Linked DNA regions of Homo sapiens: region 2 is linked to region 1. Evidence: fine-mapped expression QTL. Tissue or cell type: whole blood. Region 1 holds a variant in brackets; the other region holds the start of a gene. All regions are shown on one strand. Distances are between the middles of the regions.

Region 1 (2,758 bases):
CATATATATATATATATATATATATATATTTTTTTTTTTTTTTTTTTTTTTTTTTTTTTTTGAGACGGAGTCTCGCTCTGTCGCCCAGGCTGGAGTGCAATGGCGCGACCTCGGCTCACTGCAACCTCTGCTTCCCGGGTTCGAGTGATTCTTCTGCCTCAGCCTTCACAGTAGCTGGGATTACAGGCACTGCCACCACGCCTGGCTAATTTTTGTAGTTTTAGTAGAGACAGGATTTCACCATGTTGGCCAGGCTCTACTAAAAATACAAAAATTAGCCAGGCATGGTGGTGCATGCTTGTATTCCCAGCTACCTGGGAGGCTGCAGTGAGCCAAGATCATGCCACTGCACTCCAGCCTGGGTGACAGAGCAAGACTCTGTCTCAAACAAACAAAAACCAAAATATATTTGATTGTCCAATATTATTTTCTTCTTTTGGGTGATGTTTGAAGGTTTGTGTCTGATGGATTTGGGGGTGGAGGGTACAGATCTGTTCTTGCTAGTGGTTAGAATATCTTCTATGCTTTCCTTGTGACCACGTAGCAGATGTCGTATTAGTGCATAAGATTTGTATATTAGATACAAACTATGAGCACACAGTAAAAGTATGCTTGAATGGAAGACGGTGTTTGTTAGGGGCTCGCAAGTGTATCGTAAGAATTATAAATGTGAAAGCTGTTCCTGGCCATTCTTCCACTTTAGCCAGTTCTAAGAACTGTGCTGATTCAGGATAAGGGTTATTAGATGGGAGGGAGGAGAGAAAAAAGGAAGCCCATATCGAGACTTAAATCAACTCAGGCAGCTGTAAAAGGAAGGAAATTTCTTATATCCCAGAGCTCCTGGGAGTGCCTGAGTAGGAGATGTACTTTTAGAGATTCTTTTCCTCCTTATCGCTTGCCCTGCAGAATCCAGGACAATTGTACCCCTTGGGCACAGATTCATAGTATTATACATCGTGTCAGAGGGCGGACACTTCACAGCCTTATTGGGAGAAAGAAATTCAGTTTGGGTAAAACTAAAAACTAGGGTTTTTTTGCTCTTTCTTTTGTCGAAGGAGAAAGGGGTGGACTATATGAAGAAAATTCTTGATTCTCCATGTCCCAAAGCAAGACACTTAAAATTTGCAGCTGCTTACAACCTCGGAAGAGCTTATTATGAAGGAAAAGGTGTTAAACGATCAAATGAGGAAGCTGAAAGGTAATCCTACCTGAGAACAAGATTAGGTTTGAAGGAAATGCTGAAACCGAGAATAACATGCCTCACTTTCTCTTGTAGACTGTGGCTTATCGCAGCAGACAATGGAAATCCCAAAGCTAGTGTGAAGGCTCAAAGTATGCTCGGGCTGTATTACTCAACCAAGGAGCCCAAGGAGTTAGAAAAGGTAACGTTCCCTCTTTTTTAATGCTAGTGTTATATTTAGATTAATATTTGTTTCACTGCTTTTTTTGAGAAAATGGTGGGGAATGTCGTTTTAAATATCTCTTATAGTTCCTTTAAATGTAAAGAAAGCATACATTTTAGGATCTCAAAGCCCTTTTATTTATAAATGTCCCCTTCCCTACCTCTAC[C/T]GAAGGAAACCATGAATGTGAGAGTATTTTGTATACTATAGTATCAAAGCTAAAAGAAGAGAAACAGTCCTGAAATTACAGCCAAAATCCTTCTAAGCATGAACAGATGAATATTACCGTTGACTTGAGAAATTGATACTAATAAGTAAAATATACCAAGAATTAGTTACAAATAAAATCCATCTAAGATTTTCACAGAAATATAATCTCTTTCATCAATGGTTGAAACAGTTTCCAAAAAATCCTATAAGGAGAAGGAAATGGGGGCTGAGTCCTACTTGTGAGAGAGGAGTTAATGGCAAATTTGCAAGAGACACATAACAACTAAGGCCATCTTTGGATAGATAAGCAGCCATCTGGAATTTTTTAAATGAATTCAAATTCACTGTAGCAGAGTATGAGGCAAATGTGCTTGAGCCTACATACAGCGTTTATCCTGGGTTGTCTTTGATCGCAGCAGCTGCTATCTCTAGAATCCACCGGGAGCTCGAACTCTCCCTTAGCATCAGTGGTTTCCCCTCCTCTGCTGTGCCTCACGCCTTTCAGACACTGAGTTCCTATTTGGCATCTTCCTGATCCTTACTCTGAAGATCCCCAAATCCTGAAACCTAGGACAGCTGGTCTTCCTCTGCCATAAGCTGCCTGGACTGTGATCTCACCTGCACTGTGGACAGACAGCGGAGGAACTCGCCTCCACACTGTGTTAGGCATGTGTGCTAGTGTGAAATGCGTCCAAAGGCCTACCGCTCTTTCCTAGAGATGATTAATAGTGCTATCTAGGAAACACAGAGTTCTTTTCTGTCTAGTATTCCCTTATAATTTCATCTAGTGGATCACAAATACAATGATGAAACTGTGCTTTTCTTAGGCATTTTACTGGCATTCCGAAGCATGTGGCAATGGGAATCTGGAGTCCCAGGGTGCACTTGGGCTCATGTACTTGTATGGACAAGGCATCCGGCAGGATACGGAAGCTGCCCTGCAGTGCTTAAGAGAAGCAGCAGAACGCGGAAACGTCTATGCTCAAGGGAATCTCGTGGAGTATTACTATAAGATGAAATTTTTTACAAAGTGTGTTGCATTTTCCAAAAGGTGAATGTCTTTGTCTGTTCTGTGCTGCTGTAACAGAATATCACACACTAGGTAATTTATGAGAAACAGAAATTTATTTCTCACAGTTCCAGAGGCC
Region 2 (2,628 bases), 170 kb after region 1:
GGAAAGTGGTGCCAACACAGTTTTATTAAGCACTTTAAAAGAAAGTGAAATTCTTGCTTTTTTTTTTTTTGAGACACAGTCTTACTCTGTTGCCTAGGTTGGAGTGCAGTGGCACGATCTCGGCTCGCTGCAACCTCCACCTCCGGAGTTCAAGCGATTCTCCTGTCTCAGCCTTCCGAGTAGCTGGGACTACAGGCTCACGTCACCACGCCCAGCTAATTTTTGTATTTTTAGTAGAGACAGTGTTTCACCATATTAGTCAGGCTGGTCTTGAACTCCTCTCAGGGGGCCCCACCCGCCTCGGCCTCCCGAAGTGCTGGGATTACAGGGGTGAGCCACTGCGCCCAGCCAATGCTGTCTTTTAGGCAACAAAAAGAGAATTGATTATACTTTTGGTAATTAAGACCAACAAGTACAAAATGCATTGTGAAGGACGAAAATAGACAATCCTTACTGGAACTCCCCGGGACAGGCAGGGTAAGACCCATATTTCCTACCCTTCTTTGCACTTAGATGTGAACAATATTTATTAACTACTGGATTGTATACCATTGCTGCTATAACAAATTACTACAAATTCAGTAGTTAAAACAACACAGGTGTATTGTCTTACAGTGCTTAAGGTATTAAGTCTAAAATCAAAATTTGCAGGCTCTAGTTCCTTCCTGAGGTTTCAGGAGAGAATCCGTTTCCTCCTTTTGCAGCTTCTACCTGCACTCCTTGGCTCATTGCCTCTGACATCACTCCAACCTCTAGCTTCTGTGCTCACAGCTCCCACTACTGACTTTGAACTTCTTGTCTCCATCTTATAAGGACCTTTGTGATTCCATGGGGTTCACTGGATAATCCTGGTTAATCTTCCCATTTTGATCCTTAATCACATCAGCTAAATCCTGTCTGCCACATAAGGTGACATATTCACGTGTTGTGGGGACTAGGAGGTGCACATTTTTGGGGTGCCATCATCCTACCATACCTGAGAGTTCAACGAGAAGTTATTGTATTCAATATATTCTGCAGAGATCATTTTTACCTTAGATTGTTTTAACTACCCACCTCGTTTACCACTCGGCAAAGGTCTTTCCATTCTGAAACCAGCCTCTGGTCCACAGAACTAACTAGTGGTATGAACTGAAATTTGCTGATAGAAAATATCACAAACACACAGCCGCCGTTCTTTTTTATTCTTGGTTTGGTAGAGAATTACAAGATAATCAAGGCAGCTTTCCCTATTAACGCACGAGAACAACGGGGCCTACCCGCGCCGCCCTAGGCAGCCGGGAGCAGCAGTAACGCCTCTAGGGCGCCATGGCAACCACGCGGGCTGGACCGCCTTCTTCCGCGGCTCTTCTAGTGTGCGCGTCCCTGGCCCGGCCTCCACTCCGCCCGCGTGGAGCCCCGGCCTGGCCGCCTGCCCGCCGCGCTCTGTGACGCCCGCCGCGAGGGCCGCACGAGGCCCGGCGTGCGCCCCCGCCTCTCCCGAAGCGCCGGGCCCCACGCCGCCCCTCCTTTCCCTTTCCGCTCTCTCCGCCTCCGGAAGCGCGGGCGCGCGGCGCCGGGAGCCCGTTCAGGGCCGCGGGAGTGCGCCAGCGCCGCGCGTGGGGCTGTGGTGGCCGCGGCTCTCAGGTGAGGGGCGCGCGAGCGGCTCCTGGCTCCCTGCTCGCGGGGCGCCCGCCACGCTCCTTTCCGTTCGCATCCGTCTCCCCGCTCCGGAGCCCAGGCGGCGGCGAGTACTCGGGGTGGGTTTAACGAAGCCTGCGCGGACGGTGGGAGACCGCGCCCCCACGACAGGGGCGCCCGCGGCGGCGGGTCGCGGCGCCGTTCCACCCCGGTCCCCTGTGAGAATGGCGGGTCCCGCCCTCTCGCGCGTTCCGGGTGGCTTTGAGGGTCAGGATCAGCCCTAAATTGAGATTGGGCCGCGACCACATGCCGGGCCCTGACGACTTCTTCCTACTTGTAGGGACTCGAACCTAACCCACGAGGCCCGAGGGGTTATCTGCCTTCCGGGGACGGTAGGGGATGTAGACAAGAGCCTAGCGTTCCTGGAAACAGGTGTTTAATTTGGGCCGGGATTTTCATGTACCCAATTGGGCATCTTGTTGGAGGCCTACTGTGCTGTTTAACTACAGAAATGTATTGTCACAGTAACAAGATGACAGTTTAAAAAGTGCCCGGTGCTTTTCTGTGTATTTTCCTGATGTTTGGTGAAAGCATTAGTCTTGTTATTGCTGGTCTGTAGGACCTGGCAAGTGGGGCGTGCCCAGTGACTCTCAGGCAGCTTTGATAAAAACTTACCTGTCTCTTTTTTTTATTTTTATTTTTTGAGACAGGGTCTCGCTCTGTGGCCCAGGGTGGAGTGCAGTGGCACGATCATGTCTCACTGCAGCCTCCCAACTCCTGGGCTCAAGCGATCCTCCTGTCTTGGCCTCCCAAAGTCCGGGGATTACAGGCGTGAGCCATGCCCCTCCTGGCAAAACTCTGTCTTGATTGAGCACCAAAGGGTTGTTATGGTCTGATGAACTATCCTTTAATTTTATCCTTTCCTAGTCTGTTGTAAAGAGAATCTTAACTACTTTATTAAGTCATTTTTCTTATTCTCTGGTAAATTGAATCACTTACCTCGTAGTA

The links. PIP is the estimated chance that this variant, and not a neighbour inherited with it, causes the effect.
Region 2: it holds the start of CFAP97, and the variant in region 1 is fine-mapped to the expression of CFAP97 in whole blood (TOPMed, PIP above 0.99).

Annotation. Positions count from the first base shown.
Region 1 is chr4:185,372,759-185,375,516 of GRCh38, reverse strand. It overlaps LRP2BP (LRP2 binding protein), which reads left to right. Exons shown (of 9, transcript NM_001377440.1): 5 at 1,056-1,198; 6 at 1,277-1,382; 7 at 2,438-2,661. It also overlaps a transcript of SNX25 not described here. Among named protein-coding and RNA genes, the nearest start is that of LRP2BP, 22 kb to the left of the region's middle. The variant C/T (reference allele first, on the strand shown) is at 1,570.
Region 2 is chr4:185,202,896-185,205,523 of GRCh38, reverse strand. CFAP97 (cilia and flagella associated protein 97) reads left to right here and starts at 1,524. Exons shown (of 5, transcript NM_020827.3): 1 at 1,524-1,626. It also overlaps a transcript of SNX25 not described here. RefSeq lists enhancers at 372-461, 572-681 and silencers at 1,441-1,612, 1,222-1,991.